Regions from separate parts of the Homo sapiens genome. Here region 1 is linked to region 2. The links come from fine-mapping of genetic effects on gene expression. A gene starts in region 2. The other region holds a variant in brackets. All regions are shown on one strand. Distances are between the middles of the regions.

Evidence for each region. PIP is the estimated chance that this variant, and not a neighbour inherited with it, causes the effect.
Region 1: its variant is fine-mapped to the expression of PPP6R1 in thyroid (GTEx, PIP 0.95).

Annotation. Positions count from the first base shown.
Region 1 is chr19:55,221,010-55,232,205 of GRCh38, forward strand. TMEM86B (transmembrane protein 86B) reads right to left here and starts at 7,754. Exons shown (of 3, transcript NM_173804.5): 1 at 7,682-7,754; 2 at 7,182-7,428; 3 at 5,629-6,554. The coding sequence starts at 7,732. The coding sequence ends at 6,172. PPP6R1 (protein phosphatase 6 regulatory subunit 1) reads right to left here. Exons shown (of 24, transcript NM_014931.4): 18 at 11,066-11,196; 19 at 10,793-10,973; 20 at 10,589-10,659; 21 at 10,401-10,482; 22 at 9,765-9,875; 23 at 9,604-9,675; 24 at 8,770-9,522. The coding sequence ends at 9,519. MIR6804 (microRNA 6804) reads right to left here and starts at 9,943; the gene lies at 9,876-9,943. The variant G/A (reference allele first, on the strand shown) is at 7,312.
Region 2 is chr19:55,252,830-55,264,025 of GRCh38, forward strand. PPP6R1 (protein phosphatase 6 regulatory subunit 1) reads right to left here and starts at 6,188. Exons shown (of 24, transcript NM_014931.4): 1 at 5,606-6,188. HSPBP1 (HSPA (Hsp70) binding protein 1) reads right to left here. Exons shown (of 8, transcript NM_012267.5): 8 at 9,394-9,853. The coding sequence ends at 9,779. RefSeq lists enhancers at 1,839-1,978, 2,279-2,328, 5,436-6,410, 6,416-6,615, 6,646-6,695 and 4 more and silencers at 4,268-4,461, 5,646-5,705, 5,876-5,975, 6,106-6,385, 6,292-6,586.

The DNA of each region.
Region 1 (11,196 bases), 32 kb before region 2:
GTGATTTAGCAGAGCCCTGAGTTAAAACTAGGCCATGATGACACTTGGTGACACAAACATCTGACAAAAGAGCTGTACCCTTTATATTTTCAAAGACTTTCTACAAATTAAGGAAGGCAGAAGACCCATTTAATGGGCAATGGACTTGAAGAGACACTTTACCAAGAATATCCAAATGGCCACAAACACACACACATACACACAAATGGGAATGTGTTCAACTTCATTAGTCATTATGGAAATTAAACCACAAGGAAGCACCAGAACACTGCAGCAGAAGAACTAAAATGGAAAAGACGAACAACCAACTATCTGCAAGAATATGGGGCAAATGAAGCTTCCTCACATTGCTGGCAGGATGGTAAACTGGTAAGCTGCTTTGAGAAATGGTTTGTCAGTAACTACGAAAGCCTAAGGTACGTATACCATCACTCAGCGATTCCACTGCTAGGCAGACATCTGAGGGAAAAAACTTCCTGTGTGCTCCAAAAGACATGGACAGAAATGTTCATGGTAGCTTCATTCATAGTATCCCAAAACTAGAAACATAAAATGTTCATGAAGGGAGGGATGAAACAATAAGTTGTAATACATTCATGCGATAAATAGTACACAGCAATAAAAATAAAAACACCCAGCATGGATCCACATTTCATCCACAATGTTGAGTGAAGAAAGCCAGAATCAAATAACTACATACTGTATAATTCCACTTAGAGAAGTTTCAAGGACAGACTACACTAATTTACGATGATAAAGATCAGGAGACTGGTCACTCTTGGGGAAGGGAGGTACAAACTGGAGGGGAGACAGGAGAACCTGCTAAGATGCAGAAAATTTATTTTTTTTTAATTTTATTTTTGAGATGGAGTTTCGCTCTTGTTGCCCAGGCTGGAGTGCAATGGTGCGATCTCAGCTCACCACAACCTCCGGCTCCTGGGTTCAAGCAATTCTACAGGCATGCACCACCACACCCGGCTAGTTTTGTATTTTTAGTAGAGACGGGGTTTCTCCATGTTGTTGGTCAGGCTGGTCTCGAACTCCCAACCTCAGGTGATCTGCTTGCCTCGGCCTCCCAAAGTGCTGGGATTACAGGCGTGAGCCACCACACCAGGCTATTTATTTTGAGACAGAGTCTCACTCTGTCACCCAGGCTAGAGTGCAATGGCACGATCTAGGCTCACTGCAACCTCCACTTCCCGAATTCAAGCGATTCTCCTGCCTCAGGCTCCCGAGTAGCTGGGATTACAGTCATGTGCCACCATGCCTGATTTTTGTATTTTTAGTAGAGACAGGGTTTCACCATGTTGTCCAGGCTGGTTTTGAACTCCTGACCTCATGATCTGCCTGCCTTGGCCTCCCAAAGTGCTGGGATTACAGGCGTGAGCCACCGTGACCGACTATTTATTTTTTGAGATGGAATTTTGCTCGTCGCCCAGGCTGGAGCACAGTGGTGCGATCCTGACTCACTGCAACCTCCACCTCCCGGGTTCAAGTGATTCTCCTGCCTCAGCCTCCTGAGTAGCTAGGATTACAGGCATGCACCACCACGCCCAGGTAATTTTCTTGTATTTTTGGTAGAGACAGGGTTTCATCGTATTGGCCAGGCTGGTCTCGAGCTCCTGACCTCAGGTGATCCACCCGCCTCAGCCTCCCAAAGTGCAGGGATTTCAGGCATGAGCCACCTCGCCTTTCAGCCCACACAATGAAGGTTTATGAAGCCCCAGATTCCAGGGCCTCCACCACAACCCCATCTCTGCCACACTTCTGGTCCCACTGGGGGCCGTGGTCCCTGCCCACTGGACCCAGTAGGTGTAGGTGTGGGGGTCTGGGCCCCGGGGGGATATACACCTTAGTGTAACAGAACTCAGGGTCTGAGCCTGTATCCTCAGATCCATGACCTGGCCGGGTAAGGAAAGGAAGGGAAGGGGGTCAGGGTTCCTGCAGGAAGGTTATCTGAGTGGCCTTAAACAGACCCAGTTGTCTCTTACTTGTAGTTCTCAAGAGTAACAGTAGAATGTGCTGGGAATGCAACATCCGGAGATATGGAGGGACTGGCCAGGCGGCCTGGGCTCCATTCCTGCCTGCCCTAGAAACAGGATGCCCTTCAATGCTTGAGCCCGGTGACTCAGGTTTCCCCCAGAGTAGAAAACCCAGGGCTGGGTACTTTTTGGGGTCCCTCAGCTGCCATACAAGTGAGGCACACACAGTTGTGACCCTATCCTCCCTAGGCCACTTTCCTAAGCCTTGGGGGACCAGCTTACAACGGACCCTGGGATTCTGCTGTCCCTTGCTGCCCATCTGTGAGAAACAAGCCCACTTCATGTAACTTTTTGCGTGTGGCGTTCTGTCTCATCACTCTGGCAAGTTGGTAACCAGTGCACAGTGAACCTGCTTCACAGACCACACCCCATAGTCCCTGGGCCTCCAGAGCAAAGGGAAGCATCCCCTCCTTCCCACAGCCCTGCTTGCTCTGGAAGGATGCACCCTATCAGTGGGGCCGATGCCAGAGGCCTCCTGAGGCCTCCTACTCCCCAAGCCCAGAGTGCTCTCACCCCTCGCCCGTGGCCTCTGTGAGCGTCTGGCTGGGGCTGTTGACCTCATGCTTCTGGGCCCACATGCTGGGGTACTGCGTCCCTGCAGCCAGGCCCTCCACAGGCACCCTGATGTCTGAGGAGTCACTGGCCCAGCAGAGCCAGTAGGGGCAGGTCTTGGAGTCTGGGCCTGCGGGGCCCTCAGGGTGAGGGAGCTGGTGGTCTGAGCCGGTGTGACCAGGCCAGGGACTAGTTTGGGAATGTGGAAAGGAGAGAGTCATTTGATAAAGTTTGTTTGTGGCTCTAATGAGAATAAAGTGCACAGCCTGGCACTTTTTACAAATGTGCACACGCACGCACGCGCACACACACGCAAACACACATGCACACACAAGTGCACGTGCACACACACGCACATGTTGCTGGGCAGTGGAAAGGTGGCCCCTCTTACCTGTAGACATGCTCAGGACGTCCCTGGGGCCACCTACTCCTTTCTTCTTGGCCCACACAGAGGTGGTGTAGAGGGTCCCAGGCTGAAGCCCTCCACCACGAGCCAGCAGTGTGACGTGCTTGTGTTCCCGCTGGCCATGCCCCTGGACCCAGTAGATGGAAGTCTGCCGGTCTGGGCCCTTGGGGCTGCCCAGCTCAGGGTGATGGAGCTGGAGGTCCGAGCCTCCACACTCACGATTCTGTCTGCTTTGGCGGCTGACATGGGTAGAAGCCTCTGCGGCAAACAGAAGACGGAATCCCACGGCCCTTCCTAGACGTGCAGGATGGAGGCTGATGGGGTCACTAACCTGCTGCTGTGGCCTCTGTCGTGGTCCCGAGGGCCTGGGGAGGGCCCAGATGGGGAATCAGACCCACGGTGGTCTGACCTGCAGGATCGGGATGAAGGCTGCTGAGTCCCACCCCGCCTCATCCCCACCAGCCACCCCGGCTTGGGAGGGAAGATGGAGCCGGCGTTTTGCCCCTTGCCCCAGGTCTGGGTCCCGGCAGGGCTGGAAGGAGCCTGAGAGGGATGTGCGCAGCACCTCCGAGAGTCCCGCTTTAGAGAAACACGAATCAGATCATGAGAAAGCAGACCTCTGAGAAGTCAGATGAAAGGTCGTCGGGGGACCAGAATCAGGGAGGAGGGACACGACGCTGGGGCTGCTGGATGCCGACAGGAGAGCAGCGTCCCGTCGCTCTGGACTGCCGACCCCACAGAGCCCAGGGACCAAAAGCCAGAATGTTCCCCAAACACCAGGGATTATGGGCCCAGCCCCTCCTCCCTCAGACTCAAGAGTCCAGGCCCCCAGCCCCTCCTCCCACAGACTCAGGAGTCCAGCCCCTCCTCTCCCAGACCCAGGAGTTCGGGCCCCCAGGCCCTCCTCCCTCAGACTCAGGAGTCCAGACCCCAGCCCCTCCTCCCTCAGACGCAGGAGTCCAGGCCCCCAGCCCCTCCTCCCTCAGACCCAGGCCCCCAGCCCCTCCTCCCCCAGACCCAGAAGTCCAGGTCCCCAGCCCCTCCTCCCTCAGACTCAGGAGTCCAGACCCCCAGCCCCTCCTCCCTCAGACCCAGGAGTCCAGACCCCCAGCCCCTCCTCCCTCAGACTCAGGAGTCCAGGCCCAGCCCCTCCTCCCTCAGACTCAGGAGTCCAGGCCCAGCCCCTCCTCCCTCAGACTCAGGAGTCCAGGCCCCCAGCTCCTCCCTCAGACTCAGGGGTCCAGGCCCCAGTCCCTCCTCCCTCAGACTCAGAAGTCCAGGGCCCCAGCCCCTCCTCCCTCAGACCCAGGAGTCCAGGTTCCAGCCCCTCCTCCCTCACCTCCAGGAACCCCTCATGTCTGCAGGCCCCACGTGCCCCTGGAATCTGCACACCCAGACCCCCGTCCCTCCTGCTACACTTCACTGCGCAATTTCCTCTTTCCCCACCTTTCGCCAGGTCTGAGTGGAGAGGGTAGGAGATGAGGAGGAAGTGGAGGTTTCGAACCTGAGTCCAATCCTTCAGATCCTCCTCATGCCTGACCCTTCCTCAAGGAAATCCCTCAGCTTCCACTTCTCCTCACTCCAACTGTGGATTCCTGTCCTCACTTTCCTTCCTGGTCCCCGTCCTCCAGGCTCCCCACCTTCCCTTCCCACCTCTGTACTCTCACATCTGAGTCCCTAAATGCAGGTCATGGATGGAGAAGTCACCTCTCTGCTGTAAGAGTCCCTAAATGCTGGCCATGGATGGAGAAGTCCCCTCTCTGTCGTAAGAGTCCCTAAATGCAGGTCATGGATGGAGAAGTCACCTCTGCTCTAAGAGTCCCTAAATGCAGGTCATGGATAGAGAGGTCGCCTCTCTGCTGTAAGAGTCTCTAAATGCTAACCATGGATGGAGAAGTCGCCCCTCTGCTATGAGTCACTGAAAGCACATCATGGATGCAGAAGTCAAATAGGGTCTTGGAGAGCAGCTTGGACCCTGTCAAGTCTTCAGATGCAGAATCTGAGGACCTGAGGGATAGCAGCTTGCCGAGGTCACACAGCCTTGACAAGGAGCACAGCTGGGTTCCTCCTTCCCATTTGATTCCTACCCCCTTGCCGCCCTCCCTCCTCCAAGACCCCTCATCCTCAAGCCTCCCACCCTTCTCCCGATACTGCATGTGACTGCAGCGGGTTGTATCCCCTAGAAAGATATGTCCAAGTCCTAACCCCAGATACCTCTGCAGGTGACACTACTTGGAAATAGGGGCTTTGCAGACATACTTAAGGATCTTGAGATAGAATCACCCTGGGTTTAGGGTGGGCCCTAAATCCAATGACCTGTGTCCCTAGAAGGATGCGGACACAGAGGGAGGCTGCCAGTTGAAGACAGTCACATGAAGACGGAGAGACACAGCCACAGGCCGATGGAAGCCAGGGATTCCCGGGAGCCTCCAGAAGCCGAGAGGGCAAGGACGGATTCTTCCCTGGAGCCTCAAGAGGGACCATGGGCCGGAAAACACCCGGATTTTGGACTTTGGGTCTCCAGAACTGCAGGAGAGTCCATTCATCTTGTTTCAAAGCATCTGGCTTGGGGTAATTTGTGACAGCAGCCTCAGGAAACTAACACAAAGACCAAACAGTCCTCTTGGCTCAGTTCTGCACAATCCTCACTTTATCCCCCCGAATCCCCCCACCAGAGGGCCATGGAGGGTCCCACTGGGCACCAGGCCTGGTCCATGGGGAGCGACAAAGAACCTTCTGCTGTCATTAACCGCGATGGTTTATCACAATCATGACCCTCCCCGAGGCCTCTCCTACGGTAACAGCAACATCTACGGTTCCACACCCACAGGGAAAACGGATTCAGAGCAGCAGCAGGGGGCGGGCAGGCTGTGGGGCCGACAGTGAACATGGAGGCAGGCTGGTGGCTGGGAGGGCTCCATGTGGGCCTGGCTGAGGAGCCAGGGATCTGGAGTCAGAACCGGGGGAAGGCAGCTGGAACCCAGTAGTGGACTTGGAATTCCGCAAATCGTCCTCAAACGTCTTCAGCCAGAAGCGACGGCGGCAGCGGCGCCTGCAGACAGGCGTCAGGAAGCTTCGCTGCTGAGGGTATTTCTCAGGCTGGGCTGGGCTGGGAGGCCCAGGTCCTTGCAGGAGGAGAGGGCCTGAACACCGGCCCTTCAAGCTCCCTAGTCAGTCAGTCTTGGGCACCGGGCTCCTGAGGGCTGACAGTGTGATGAGGAGCTGGGCAGCATAGTAGGTGGTCATGATCACCAGGTGGGCATGGGGCAGGGGCTGGGCGAAGGTGTCCCAGGCCAGCACGCCATCAGAGAGCGTGAAGAGCAGCGCGCCCCAGCCGGCACTCCCGCCCTGGGCCAGGCCGCGCCACAGCATGGCCATCAGGATCAGCCCATAGGCTGCCACCGGCAGGACCATATCCGGCTCGAGGTGCTGGAGCACAAGGCTGAGGTAGGGGCCAGGGGCCAGGATGATGAGCAGCAGCAGGCCGGGCTGCAGGGGAGAGAAGCCGAAGGCCCAGACGTAGAGGAGGTGGGCGGTGGCAAAGGCGGCCATGCCTGGCGGGAGAGGGGTGGGGTACCAGTGAGGAAGGCCCATCCTGGGAATGGCCCCGAGGTCACCCCTCAGGGCCTAAGAGAAGGACCATCCCAGAGCACCAGGCCCCACCCTGGCCGAGCCTCCTTGCAGGTCTCCCCACATGCAGTGTCCATCCTTGCTCTGCTCAGAACTGCCAGGAGGCCCCACCTTCCCTTGGCCTCCAAAGCCCCATGGCCTCCAGCTCTCCAGCCACTCTGCGCCAGCCACCCTGGCCTGCTGGGCTACAAGCACCTGACACGTCCCTGCCCCGGAGCCTTTACACTCGCCCTTCCTCCACACAGGCATACAGCCCTTCAGCTCTGCCCAAATGTGACTTCCTCAGTGAGGCCTTCCTCAGCAACCCTGCTTCAAACTGCAGTACCTCCAGCAGGTCCTCACTGCCCTCTGCGCCACCTCAGCTACTGCCCTAACACCGCCTGCCCCCACCCCTCGCTGGAGCGTGAGCTGCCTCGGTCACGGCTGCGCCCCCCACTGTGCCTTTGACCACTGGAGCTCTCACAGGAGCCCTCTGCACCCAGGCTCCCATCCAAGTGCTGGGGCCTCTCTCACACGGGCATCTGGAAAGCGTCACAGCACCTTCCACTCACCAGGGACGAAGGCTGCCGGCCAGATGAGGCAAGCGTCCCCCACAGCCGAGCACACAAGGGCTCCCTGGAGGAGCTGGGTGTAGCCCCCGCTTGGGGACATGACCCACAGGAACCCAGCCAGGCAGAGGAC[G/A]GGCAGGCACTTGACCAGGGCAGCGAACCAGGACAGCTGGTCCTCGGGAATCCAGAGGCAGAAGTACACGCAGCAGGAGAGGATGAAGGGGCTCAGCCACCTGCAGACATCTGGGCGCTTTGGGGAGTGGGGAGCTACTGAGCCGAAACCCAGCCCAGCCCCCATTCTTGGGACTCAGATCTCATGGCTCCTGTCCCACCCCCACCTGGGACCCCAGCTGTACAGGCTGGACCCATTCAGGGACCAGGCTGCCAGAACCCAGCTTCCCAGGGCCCAACCAACTCAAGGACAGCAGCTCCCAGACCCGCCGGCTGCTGGGGTTCCAGGGCCCTGTCCCCCCAGCCCCAGGCACAGCTCAGAAGGCTCTCACCTGGGCTGAGCAGTGAGTCTTCAGGGTCTGCCCCGCTTTGCCAGCGTCCATGCTGGCCTGATAGCCCCAGAGCGACCTAATCTGGGAGCGAGTGGCTTCAGGGGGTGGAGGGGAGGGCTCATGGTTACACGTTAACCCAAGGAGCGTCCTGTGGACTCTGTGACTGATAACAGGGCCCAGGGAGATGTTGTCCTCACCCTGGGGATGGCCCTGCCTGGCGCCCGCTGATAAAGCACTGTTGGCACTGGGGGTCCCTCTGCCCTAGCCTGCTGGGACATGGCTTCCTCCTCCTATCTGCCTGGGGAGGTTAGGCCCACAAATGCCTGTCCCCTTGTCCTGGGCCCCAACAATCAGAAGAGATGGGGTGCAGAATTCCAACAGCCACCCCATCATGGGAAGCGGGAGAGGGGCTGGCTGGCAGGAGTGCCCCTGGAGGGATGGGAAGGCGAGTCTGTCCTTCACTTGCTGCCCTAGCCGTCTCCCTCCCTGCTCCATGAAACCTTTCCTCATTCTGCTCAACCCCACCAAGCCCTCAGGGGCTCCACCACAAACACTGCTTCAATGGGTGACCAGGAGGGACCACCACGAATGCGGGGAACAAGCACCCTCTCCTGTTAGCTGAGCGAGCCCCCAGGTGACCTCCAAGCCAACTGCCACCCCAGTGAGGACGCTGTCCTCATGGCCCGGTCCACACGCTCCGGTTTCCCAGCGCCGCTCACCGGTGCCACTCGCTGCACACGCAGCCTACACTTCTACCTTCTACCTGAAAGACTCAGACCTACTGGGCGCCAGTACCCAGCCTCAATGCTGGGCTTGGTTACTGGGGGTAAGCAGGGGCAGGAGCAGGGATTTGAGCCTGTCGGTGGCTTCTATCCTCTGCCCAAGGCCCTGCCCACAGGTGGGGTAGACCTGGCAGGAGCCCTCACAGCCAGTGCCTGGCCCAGCCTGGGGCCTCTGCAGCCACAGGGCTCCCTCTGGCAGGACAGTGTGGGGGCAGACTGGGTCAGGAGCACCCCCAGCCTCTGGGGTGCAGGGATAATACAGGCTCCCCACCCCGCATCCCAGAACGTAAGGTCTGACCAGCAGAATCGTAAACTGCCTTCCTTTATTTATATTTGCAATATGAAATAGAAGCTCGGCACAAACGCACGCACACTCACACCAGCCTGGGAGGAGGGAGCTGGGGACAAGGTCACTTGGCAACAGGGCTGGGACCTCAGACCCTCAAGGCCCCTGGGGCTGTTGCCGGGGAGGCCCCTGCTCCCCAGAGCCGGACTGGCCTGGTTGAAAGTGCAGGGTCTGGGCAAAGGCACGGCCCCCACTCGGGACCCTCTGGCACCCCCACCCACGCTGGGCCGTCCCCCATGGTGGACCTGAGCTAAAAGGCCGGGTGTGGGCGTGGCCGTCTGCGCTGCAGCGTGGGACAGCTGGGCACGTGGGTGGCAACCTTGGGACCCCTAACACCAGCTCCCGCTGGGACGGAACAGGGAAGGCTGTGCTTTGGAGCCGCCAGCCCAGTTCGGTGTCCTCACTCTCTCTCGCTCTCCTCCCTCTCTCTATATAATATATAATATATGTTTCTCTCTCTCCATTCTCTCTATTTGACTCTCTGTATCTTTATTCTAGGAGGCAACGCTCCAAAACTTCTCTTCTCAGTGCAAATGGGGGTGGGTTGGGCCTGTCTCCCTGGCACCAGCCTCCTGGGGGTCCAGAGGAGAGAATGTGGGGGTGTCAGGGTGATGAGGGCAATGGGGGCCATCGTGGGACCCGCCCTGCCCCCACCCCGGGAGATCCACGGGAGGACGGAAGATTTGGCCGCCGCTGCCGCACCAGGCAGCTATCTGGAAACAGAGGGAGATGTCGTGTGAGGGTCTAGCAGGCCCAGCCCCACCTACCCAGCCCGAGGCTGCAGCCACACTCACTGGGAGCCTGGGGATGCAGGCCCTTCCGGGGCAGAGCCATTGGGTATCGGAGGAGGCGTGAGGGCCTGGGCACTGTCAGGGGAGAGAGGGGATGTGCAGAGGTCACTTCCTGCCCCACCAGCCCCACCCCCACCCCCCCGCCCTGCTGCCCTGGTGCTCACCTCTGGCTTTGGGGAAGCCCCAAGGGCTCTGGGCTCTTCTCCCCTTCTGTGGTCTGGGGGGGCTGGTGGGCCCCGGAGGCTGGGACAGAGGTAGAGGGGTCTCTGGTTGCACTGTGGGTGAGAGGCAGGTGCGGCTGTCAGCGTGGCCCCCACCGTCACCTGCTGACACCCTCACATCCCACCCGACTGAAGTCGGCTCACTGGGTGTGTGTCTGCCACCTGCCCCACGGGGAGGGGCCTCCCGAGGACGCAGCTGGCTCAGCGTGGAGGGACAGCACAGCCCTGGACAGGAAGACAAGCACCCCTCTTCCCGCCTCCTGTCCCTGTGGAGGAGGTACTCGAGGCCGGCTGAGACAGCCCCAAAGGGTCTTCTGCATGCTCTCACCCTCCCAATCCTTCACACCCTCCAACGAGCCCTTCCCAACCCTGGGGCTCAAGGGCCCCAAGCATCCCAGGCTACTAAGAGAAGAACCAGCCTACAGAGTGCAAGGGGCTGGGGCACAACATGAGGCTGCGCCTGGGGGTCCTGCAAAGGAGGCCTGGAGCAGCTCAGGGACAAGATGAACCCAGAGCCCACCTCAGCGAAGAGGAGAAAAGACTTCTCCCGATACTAGGCAGCCCCACCTCGCTGCTCACCTGTCCGAGGAGCTGGGGGCAGAACGGATCCCGTGGAAGGTGGCCTGAAGGTCCCCGATGCTAACCAAGGCCTGGCAAGGGGCTGTGGGGGATAAGAGATCTCAGCTGCAGCTCCCAGCAAGCTCGGAGCTGGCCAGGCTGCTCTCTCTGCCCAGGGCCGCGGGTGGGCAGGGCAAAGCGGGGCTCACCTGAGGGCTCCGTGACTTTGCTGCCTTCTGTGGCTTCCTGAGGTGCTGAGGGGGGTGTGGGGTCCTGAGACCTGGTAGGCGAGAGAGGCAGCCCAAGGGGGCAGCTAGGGTTAGCACTCGAGCCTATGAGAGGACGGGGACCCCATGGCCACCTCCTGGCCTCGGGATACCAGCACCATTTAGCCCGTTCCATCCGGTTCTCACCTGAGCTGCAGGGCGTCACGGGCAGGAGGGCTGGCCAGGCTCTGAGTGGGGAGGCCCTGGGGCACACTGAGGGGCCCCTGTGGGGCTGGAGGCCCAGTGTGCAGCTCTTCCTCCCCGGAGACTCGGGGGCTGGTCGGGGCATCTGTAGGCACTGGGTCAAAGGTGGCTGTCCAGCTGGGGCCTGGGATAGAGGTGGGGGAGCGGGATGGAGGGTGAACTCAGTAGCAGGCAGACAGCCCTGTGTACACCTGACCACACCGCCCATTCATTCACCTGGAGGCTGAGGGCCAGGGCTGGGGTAGGACAGAGGGGTGGCCCCTCCACGGGCTGCACAGCCAATGCCCTCCTCGTCTTCCTCCTCCTCCTCGTCCTCCTCTTCTTCGTCCTCACTGTCTGTGCTGCCT
Region 2 (11,196 bases):
GCCTGGCTGTACACTCTAAATGGATGAACTGTACAGAATATCTCAATAAAAACTGTTGGGGGAAAAAAAAAAACCTGCCTCAGGCCATCGGCCATGGCAGGGACAGAGCCAGGGCCAGGCTCAGGCCTTGCACTATGTCCCAGCGTCCGCAGAGCTGATGAGATGCCGGCCAGCCTGGCAGAGCTGAAGCTGCCAAGGCTCAGCCCTGGGGCACTCACCCAGGTTACCCCTTCCCCATCCCTCACCACCAACAGCTCTAAGCTAAGTGAGCCCCTCCACAGTGGGGACGGGATAGGAGCAGCACCAAGCCAGCATCTGTAGAAAATCCATGGACCCGCACTTGCAGAGACACTTGTCTCGGCTCCACATCAAGACCAAGTAAAGAATTCTTATTATTCCGACAGAGTCTCATGTGGAAGAGGGGCCCAGAGGGGTGGAGCCACATGGCTAGCAAGAGGCTTCCAGTGTGCCCTGGTCTCTAAACAACAGGCAGAAATTCTCACACTGAGGCCCACCGTTCACTTCTAAGATACCTGATTAAAGGGCACAGGCATGGCCCTCGGCCCCCAAACCCCCTACCCCTGGTACAGACTAACCATCTGCTTCGGGGAAAAGGTCAGGCTTCCCCTCCAAACCGAGCTCCCCAGACAACTGGGGCAGGGGCAGCCAGAATGAGACGGGAGGGTGCTCGCTGGTGCACGGCATCCAAGAACTTCGGCCCTGAGAACCCAGGCAGCGCCCTGAACTCTCCATCTCAAGTGGCTCCTCTGAAAATCAGAATAGACTGAAAGGCTCAAATGCAATTGAGTGGTCGACACTCTACAGACCTCAATTATCAGGCTCTAAACAGAATGAAGATGCAAATATGGAAGAACAGAAAAAAAGAGAAAAAAACTTTCCCCCACCACAACCTCTGAATGCACTATGGCCTGAAGCCCTCTCAGTCCCCTCTCCCAACCTAATGAAGCCTGCTAGAATCCCTGCGAATGGAGCAGGAGAGTGGGTTTCACTCGCACTCTCCTGGTGAACCTGGGCAGGCGCTTGATTTCTCTGAGTCTCATTTCCTCATCCGTGAAAAGGAGACACAGCCCACCAGGGCGGGCTGCTGTGAAAAGGCATTGAGCTAAAGCAGGTGGCCGTGACACAGCAGGAGCTCAGCAGGTGCAAGTCTCTTCCGGTCCAACCCTGAGGCCACGTCCAGATGCTTTCTGGCAGGACAGGTAGGGGACCGGTCACTACCCCAAAGGTGATGGTGCTAAACACAGAGGAGCAGGAGAAAGACTCTACCCATTTGCCTAAGTGACTCAAGTACTTTTCCTCAGACCATTCGGATACTACGGCAGGCGCCATGCACCCCGCCACCCCCATTCTTTGCAACTTTTAGCAACTTCAAGAAAGCGGAAGTGACTACCACTAGTTTTTAGCTACCGTTTGAAAACCATGAGTCTGGCTGCAAACGGAAGAAGGGGAAATTGTAAATGAGAAAGGAAGCCATTAAAAACGAAAACTACCTCTGCCGCTCTCCCTCCACCAGCTCTGCACTATTGCCTCTGGTTTCTGACTTAGCTGTGGTGTTTTAGGGCCTTCAACACCAGCCACCCCTCAAGGGCCTGCCAGCCCCTTCCTTCCCCTGCTTGGACAGGCACTAACTGCGGCTCCCACAGAGCCATCCCCACTGCTGCACGTATCCGCCCAAGCACAGCTCTGCCGCCAGGGAACCGGTGGGCCCATGCTTCATCTGTCACCCCTTCCCAACCTGCGCTGACCCACGAGCACCCAGAAATGGAGGTCATGGGCACAGATGCCTCAGGGGGCCTCCAGAAACAGCTGCCTGAGCTGTCCCAATGCTCAGCAGAAGCTCCAACGCCTGGCCCCCTGGCCGGTACCCTAGGAAGGGAAAGAGCCTGCTACCAGCAGCAGGCTGGCCAGCACCCAGCTCCTTAAAGGGCCCAGAGTCCGGAGGACAGCAAGACCATCTCCCTCTAATGTCCCCCAAGCCTCTGTCAGCTCTCAGCCAAATCTGAAAGGGGGCTGGGAACACCCAATTCCAGGGATGCAGTGACAGTAATGGCAACCCCACCACCTCTGGGCAGGACCTACGGTGTGTGCCGGCTGCAGAATCCGGCATCACCCACCCAGCAAGGAGGAACCAGGGACACCAATTTGATAGAAAGGGCCACTGGGGCCAGAGGAGAAGGGGGAGCGGCCCAAGGCCCAACAAGATGATGAGCTAGGGCTTTCCTGTGGCTTGGGAAAGCCTTGGGGAGGGTCCCCACTTAAAGAGAACCCTCAGTGCCTCCCCCTCTGGCCCCAGAAGCACACCCTCCCAAGGGAGCTAGCAGCCCTGGTCCAACCCCAGAGGATGGAATAACTAGGAAACAGAAGAGTCTAGAAACACTGGCCAAGGACTGGGACGGGGACTTGAACATCCACATTCAAATCGTCTCCTGAACTGGCCACAGGTTTAAAGGAAAGAAAGGAAAAGACCAATGAACGGATTTGAAATAGCTCTTTGGAAAAACAGAAAGGGGCAGAGTTAGGGTTACAGTGTGATCCAAAGTCAGAAAAGCTTGCATTCCCATTTGACCTCCCCAAACTGAAATCTCTGTGGCCTAGACCAAGGATCTCACCCCACCGAGCCCCAGTTTCCTTATCCGGGAAATACCTCACAGATGGGGTTACTATAAGGCAGCACTCTCTGGAGAAGGACCCACAAAACTGGTGTGCAAAGGGAAAACCACGGTTTGGCATGGAAAGGCAGGTGAGCCCCATCAAGCCGGGTGCCGAGTGATTCCCACTCTGGCAAGGCCCCTCACTCTCACCAAAGCTCTCAGGCCTCTCTCACCTCATCTCTTGCTACCTCCCGCGTGGGCGTCACACCTGACTGCCCTCAGCCGGGGCTGGGCTGCTCCCTCCTCCTTCCCGGAGCTCTTCGAGTCTGACTAGCTCCTCCTGGGTCCTTCAGGCCCCCACACAGACACCACTTCCTCCAGGGAGCCTCCCCCCCGCATCTGTGTTAGAGGCCTGCTCCACGCCGCTTCCACAGCATCCCGCAGTCACCCTGGAACAGCATGTGAGCCTCGGCTCTGTGACAGGATGTACCTGTTCAGTCATCTGCCTCCCCCTGAAACATGCCGACTTCCCAGGATCTAGCATAAGGCCAGGCCCAACTAAAGCTACTTGTTGAATTAATGAAAACTGAAGCCAGAGAAAGGTGTTCTGTTAAGAGCACTGGGCCACACATCCCACAAAAGAAAAAAAATGGGCAGGGGGACCAGACAAGCAGGTTCTCCTCTAATGGAAAGAAACAGTAGATGAACCAACAAAAGCTAATGGCCACAAAGATGGTGGTGACTCGCAATACACAACTCACCAACTCACAGCTCATGAGTCACAACAGAGCAAATAAGCCACAACGACACACCATACCCCAGCAGTGGAGCAAAGTTCTCCTCCTCTGCGCTGCTAACATTTGGGCTGGACGGTTCTTTTCGGTGTTGGGGCTGCCCATGCACTGGAGGACACTTAGCAACATCCCTAGCCTCCACCTCCACTCACCAGATACTGGCAGCATTCCCCCCAGTTGTAACAACCAAAAACATCTCCAGATATCGCCAATCGTCCCCCAGGGGACACAATCGCCCCCAGTTGAGAGCCACTGCAATGGACATTCCCAAATCAAATAATAATCGAAAGAACGGCCAGGTGTGGTGGTCCATGCCTATAATCCCAGCTCTCTGGGAGGCTAGGTAGGAGGACTGCTTGAACCCACGAGTTTGAAATCAGCCTGGGCACCACAGCAGGGCACCAGAGCAAGACCCAGTCTTTACAAAAAATACAAACATTAGCCAAGCGTGGTACAAAAACACAAAAATTGAGCAAGCATTGCAGGACGTGCCTGTAGTCCTAGCTACTTAGGAGGCTAAGGTGGGAAAATCACTTGAGTCCAGGAGTTCAAGGCTGGGCAAACGAGCAAAACCCAGTCTCAAAATCATCAACATCAAAACAGCTACTGATTGCAGAGTGTCATGTGCCTTGCATTCTGCCACAGGCTTCTACAAACCCTGCACTTAATCCCTAGATCCACCCTCTGAGGAGAGCAGTCTGCTATCCCCACTTACAGACGAGGAACAACTTGTCCAAGGTCTCGCTTGGCAGAAGCCGGACTCGGCCTAGGTCTGTCTGGCAAAAGATCCTCTAACAATTAGCTGGACTGCCTTCTCATGATCCCAATCCCAGAACTAGAGTTAAAAAAAAAAAAAAAAAAAAAGCATAACATTTTCAACAGCACAAGCAGCTCCAACAGCCATCCCACCACTAGTAAGCACACGTGGCCGGGCGCCGTGTCTCCATGTGTGTTGTGCATGTATGTAAACCAAGTCCTCATCCTGTGTTATCCAGGCAATCTCGAGTCCTTGCTGCATTTGCAGCGCACGCTAACAGTTAGACCCTCGCCCTTGGGCTGGATGAAATCCCACTGCAGTTTCTCTACAACTGTGAACCCAGTACCGCACCTGACAGTCTACGCAGCTTCCTTTCCTGAAACATCTTGCCTTTCAGGCGGGTGTCTATGGTCATGTCTGTGTGTACTACGAGCGAGCAAGAAAGACCCCAACCAGAGGTCCCATTCGAGGCCTGGATAAGCACGCCGGGCGGAACTACTCTGCCCCTCACCCTCCCAATACATCTGCACTCAGGACTCCGACCTTCCTTCCTTGACATATCTGCACGTGCTGCTCCTTCCCCCCCCGGAAGGCCCTTCTTCCCACTCTCCATCTGTCACCTCCTACTCATCCTTCCTAGACAGAAAAAGCCGTCCGTCCAGTCAGTCTCACCAGTGCCTCCCGCTCTGTGGCCCCCTGCAGCTCCCTAAGTCACCTCGATCACGACACGCAGGAATTGTGACTGTCCGGCTCTGCCTTTGTACCCCCTCCAGGGACCGGCCCCACCTCCAGGGCAGGGCCTAGGGCTGATGCCCCCTCCTCGGTGCCCAGCGCCAGGCTCCCTGCCTGCCCTCAGCAGGCTTCATCTCACTGAAGCAGGCCCGAGTGGTGGCTGCTCCAGAGAAGCCCCGCTCCCAGGTCCCTCGCACAAGAAGCCGGAGGCGGGAGAGGGTCGGTCAAGGTGAAAACAAGCCCCGCTCCTCCAGTCCTGAGCTCCGGGGATCTAAGGAGGCTGCGCCACGGAAGAGGTGGCGGGGCAGAGATCGGGGCGAGAGGGAAGGGTGTAAGCAGGCAAAGTCCAGGGTAACCAGGGAGAAAGACTCCTGGGGGGCCGGGGAACCGGCCAGAGAGGCAAGAGAGCGGAGCTGAGGCTCAGGGACTGGGGAGCGCAGCTGCAGAGAGCGAGTGGGAAAAGGCCGAGAGCAAGAGACTGAGACTAGGGTGGCGGCGGAGCTGAGGTGAAGAGATTAAGAGACTGGGGAGGGTCGAGGGGGAAGAAACGGGGTGCCGTGGAGAGGAAACCCGAAGGAAGGAGGGAAAGGATCCGAAGCAGAAAAGACCCGCGGGGGTCCCGAGAGGGAAAAGCCTGAGGGGACGCGGAGAGGGGAAGACGTGGGCGCCTGGCCCTGGAGAGAGAGGGTCGGGCGACGCGGGCCGCTCACCTGCGAGGGGGGGCGGCGGCTCCTCGCACTCGGGGCTCATCGGGGCGCCCCCCCCCGCCCCGCCGCCGGCGGCTCCGGCCCCTGCTGCGGGGCCCGGTGAGTGGGGGCGGGGGCGGCGTCGGGGACTCGCGCAGGCGCCGGGGCTCGCGGGGTCCGCGCAGGCGCCCGCGGGTCGTGGGGTCCTCGCGCGCCGGGTCCTGCAGAGTTGAGGGGGTCAGCGCCGGGTGGAGTTGCCGACGGGCGGGGGGCGTCACTAGTCCGCGTAGGCACCTCCGGGGTCCGCAGGCGAGGTGGGCGTGCGGGCCGAGGCGGGTTGGCGAGCCGGGTCGCGAGGCCCACGCAGGCGCCTCAGCCGGGAAGACGGGGGAAGTTGCCCCGGTTTCCACAGTCCAACCGAGCGCCCCACGGGAGGGGAAGGCGACCTCCTCCGCGGTCCAAACGGGCCGCAGAGCCGAGCAGCGACCGACGGAAGCCGAGGCCTACTTCCTTAACCACCCCTTCCCCAAAGCCGCTCAATCTCCGGGCTCTGCGGCCGGCCTCAGGGCCTCCGACGCCCGGCTCCCTCCGCCACTATCCCACAATCCCCCTAGCGCAGGACGACGCAGGAGGCCCCGCCCTCCCGCGGCTGTGTTGGTGCGCAGGTGCGGGGGGCGGGGTGCACGCCTGGGCGGTGCAGTGCGCGTGCGCCCGGGCGCTCCCGACACCGCCCACTCTTGAACCCCGCCGCCGCAGACGCGCTTGCGCCCGTTGGTGCCAACGGTCTGCCCCGGAATAAACCCAGACAGCTCAGTGAGCCGCAGCTGCGCACCGGCTCCGTTCCAAGGCCCCGTGAATATTCCGCTCCAGGATTTCCCTTCCCACTCGCTCCGTTTGGAAATCCGTTCGCTGTTCTGTCTCCTCTAATCATAGTGGAGCTTTGGCTCCAGGGTCGGGCTCTTGCGAAATCCAGACCTGGTTTTCGCTCCAGCCAAAGCCAGGCGCCTTCGTTCCGTCCGGCTCTCGCGCTTAGCCGCCTCCGAGCCTCAGAGGCCCTCAGTCGTTTCCGTCTGCTGGCGATAGTCCCGGCCGGGTCGCTGGTGTTGCCAGTTCCGCCCAAAGCAGCTTCTAATAGCATCAACTGAAAGAGACCTCCTAGACCTTGTGTCTAGATTGATGAAGGTCCCTCTGGCTTTGAGCCTCGGTTTCCCCAACTTTAATAGCTCCCCTCTCTACCCATGTTAGAGGCCTACTGTAAAAATCGTGTGGGCGCGAGGAACTTTTTTGTTTTTGTTTTTGTTTTAAGACTCCGAATTGGCCGGGCGCGGTGGCTTACGCTTGTAATCACAACACTTTAGGAGGCCCGAGGCCGGAGGATGGCATGAGACCAGGAGTTGGAGACCAGCCTGGGCAACCTAGGGAGACCCCCGTCTCTACAAAAGAAAATTTAAAAAATTAGTTGGGCCTGGTGGCCCGCGCCTGTGGTCTCAGCTATTCGGGAGGCTAAGGCAGGAGAATCGCTTGAGCCGAGGCTGCAGTGAGCCGGATTGCACCACTGCACTCCATCCTAGGAGACAGAGCGAGAACCTGTCTCAAAAACAAAGGGCCCAGCGTGGTGGCTCACGCCTGCCTGTACTTGAGCTCAGGAGTTCAAGACCCCACGCCTATAATCCCAGCACTTTGGGAGGCCGAGGTGGGCGGATTGCCTGAGCTCAGGAGTTTGAGACCAGCCTGGGCAACACAGTGAAACCACGTGTCTACTAAAATACAAAAAATAGCCGGACGTGGCGGTGTGCGCCTGTAATCCCAGCTACTCAGGAGGCTGAGGCAGGAGAATTACTTGAACCCGGGAGGTGGATGTTGCAGTGAGCCCAGATCAGGCCACTGCACTCCAGCCTGGGTGACAGAGCGAGACTCCGTCTCGAGAAAAAAAAAAAAAAAAAAAAAGAGCAAATTCACCCCTCCTTTGCCCTCTTTGTTCTATTGAGACCCTCAATGGATTGGATAATGCCAGCTCACACTGGGGAGGGAAGATCTTTATTCAGTCTACCGATTCAAATGCTAGTCTCTTCCAGAAATACCCTCATAGACACACCCATAATGTTTTACCAGCTATCTGGACATCCCTTAGCCCAGTCAACACCTGAAATGAACCATCACAGAGAGGCATTTCCTTTTCTCTTTTTTCTATAGAGATGTTTTGTCTTTTACCCAGCATTTGGCTTCCTTGTTTTCTCCACAATATGATGGCATCATTGCCACACTGTTTTAACACAGAGGTCAGGAACTGAGGGATAAGGATGTGGCTATAGTCCCTACCCTTCAAATGGAAGCTGGGAAGCTGTGGGGGCTTTAATGACTGAAGTCTGGATTTCCACCCAGCAGAACTCACAGATATACATTGTGTTTGCATTAGAATTGAAACTTTTTTTTAAGAGACAGGGTCTGGCTCTGTCGACCAGGCTGGAGTGCATGGCACGATCACAGATCACTGCAGCCTCGAACTCCTGGGCTCAAGCAATCCTCTCGCCTCAGCCTCCCGAGTAGCTGGGACTACAACTGGAACTTTTTTCTTGAGACAGGATCTCAGATCCTGCAGCTACCTCTCAATTTATCCTGGATTTAGGAAGAGGAGTGATAAAAACCAATCCAAATAGACTCAAAAATCCCAGATCCACCAGAACAATCCACACAAAAGGAATGAGTCTGACATCAAATTGTCCTAGGAAACCAGGATACAAGAAAGAGGAGGATTGGCCGGGCATAGTGGCTCACACCTGTAATCCCAGCACTTTGGGAGGCCGAGGAGGGTGGATCACCCTGTCAAGAGTTCAAGACCAGCCTGGCCAAGATGGTGAAACCTGGTCTCTACTACAAATACAAAAATTAGCCGGGCGCGGTGGCAGGCGCCTGTAATCCCAGCTACTTGGGAGGCTGAGGCAGGAGAATCTCTTGAACTCGGAGGGTGGAGGCTGCAGTGAGCCAAGATCGGGCCACTGCACTCCAGCCTGGGCAACAGAGTGAGACTCCCGTCTCAAAAGAAAAAAAAAAGAAAGAAAAAGAAAAAGAAAGAGGAGGATCGCTCTGGAATTAGTCCAGCTGTGAATCCTGGCTGTGAACTTGGTCAGGGGTCAGCCTCCTCTGAGCTCAGCCTCCTCTCTGGAAAAACAACAGCTTTCAAAGCTCTTGTCTACAAATGACAAAATTTCTTGTAGCTAAACAGAAAAGGAATTTATTAAAGGAATTGAGGCAGCCTCCGACACCCCCACCTCCCGCCCCAATCCCACGTCTCTGAGAAAGCTACAGAATCCGCTTGGCGCTTTGCAGTCAGGAATGAAGCCCACACCCAGCCACAGGCCTGCTCCTGAGACACAGTGCAGCCTCCATCAACGGCACCTGGCTCAGACACTCCCGCCAGAATCTCTGCCAGCCCTGTCCAGAAGCCAGGTGTGGCTGCTCCTGCACTAGCCAGAAGGGAACCTGGGCAGGGGCCCCTCCACCGCCAACTCTTGGCCCGACGACCGGCGGGCTCTGATTGGTAGAGGAGCTAGACCACCAGCGGGTTCTGATTGGTGTACAAAACAGATTCCCAGAGAGAGTTCTGATTTGTGGAGCTAATGTCACATGATTACCCTACAGCAAAGGATGCTGGGAAGGGAAATGGCGGCTACCCTAGGGAAAATTTAGATGTCTAACCTGGGAAATTCCTCAAACCTAGAATTCAGGTTTGCCAGGTGGCCGAAAAAAGGACAGATGTCCCACACACTGTTGCTCAGGAAAGACAGGGAAGAGTAAATGACACAATGGCTCTATAGATGATAAAGAGCAACACTTTTATTATTCTTCCAGTGGCTCCCCAAGTCCCTTAAACCCGTGCCCCTCCTCCCGTCCCCCATGCACCCTCCAAAGGAGATGACAAAGGCGGCAGTGAAGGAGGAGAAGGAGGAAGAGAAACACCTTTATTGGAAGAGCTGTGTGGACAAGAGAACGGGGATGAGAGTGAGAGCATGGGAGGTGGGGTCCAAGGAGCTGGTGCCTTTCTCAGCGCCCCTTCCAGGGACTGCACAGAGACGGGCTGGCACACCCTGGGTCCAGGCACCTAGGCCCTGCGATCCCTTGGGAGAGGGCCTTGTAGGTGGGGAGGGAGGCAAGAGGCCTGGGGTTCCCACGGAGAAGGGGGCAAGAAGCCACCTGGTTTCACCGATCCATGCTGTCGTCCGCTGGGCTGGAGAAACAGGTCTGTAGCAGCTTTTCACAGAACTCCAGCTCCTCCTGGATTGGGCAGGGGCAGGGAGCAAGGGGCCTGAGTGCAGAGGCCGGACCCTGCCTCCAGCATTCTTGGCACCCAGAGGTGACTCCTCTTCTCTCCTGGCCACCACCCACTCCCCCCCACCAGAGGTTAGGCTTTTTTAATCACTGCTCAGATCCATGATTCACTGTCTTCACACTGGTGTCTGAACTACTTGAACTAGAACCCGGGGTCCCCCAGACTCGTCTCACTCCATTGGTCTGCCTCATATCAGCACTCTTGGGCTCTTTCTAACTCCCAGATATGGACCACTGCTCAAAACTTTCTGCGGATACAAACCCCAGAAACCATGAAAGAAAGCACTGAGAGGTTAAACTACGTAATATAAAAAATACTCCCATGGCAAAAAAAGAAAAAGAAAACGAGGTTGGAGAAAAATATTTGTGATTCATAGCACAAATGGCTAATATACTTAACTCTTAAAGAGCTTAAAAAAGTCATTCGCAAAAACCATCACCCAATAAATAGATAAGTGGGCAAAGGATGAGAACGAACAGTTCACAAGAAAGAGAAAAGATGCCAAATTTCACTCATGGGAGAAATGTAAACTGGACTGGAGTACTACTTTTCAACAATCAGTTTGAAAAAAGGTCAAATGGTTCATCGAGGCCACTTTGTCCTGACCAAGATTTGGGGAGTTGGGCACCCTCATGACTGGAGTGTCAATGGTTGAACTTCTATGGAGAGCAGCTTGGTGATAGCTAATGAAACGGCCCTTAACCCTTTAACCTTCACCTTTAACATACCTGACCCCAGCCATTTCCCTTCTAGAAATTGTTCTACAGACATATGTAATAACATATACAAAAGGTTATTCTTTCAGCAGTGTTTGTCATAGCGAGAGTGTAGAAACAACCTGCATATCCATGCTACAAAAAAGAGCCCATCCGCACTGTACAGCTGCAAAATGAAAGAGCCACAGGCGAGACATGCAATGCCCACAAAGCAAGGGGCAGAACAGCCATCACAGCACGGCAGGCTTATTTTGCATAACATAGAGAAAAAGGAGAATTCACATGCACCTTTGCTCGTGTGTACCTAATATTTTAAGAAGGACACCTGAGCAACTGGGTAGCCAGAAGGAGGGGCAGGAGAGAGACTTTTCACTGTTTACCCTCCTGCGGGTCTTGTATTTTCAACCATGTGACTACGGAACCTATTCACAAAGCATTAGTAAAATCTGTTACAAATCTAATTTGAATGTTTCCACGGGTGTATACATAAGTCAAAACTTCTCATGTAGTACACTTTTTTTTTTTTTTTTTTTGAGATGGAGTCTCACTCTGTCGCCCAGGCTGGAGTGCAG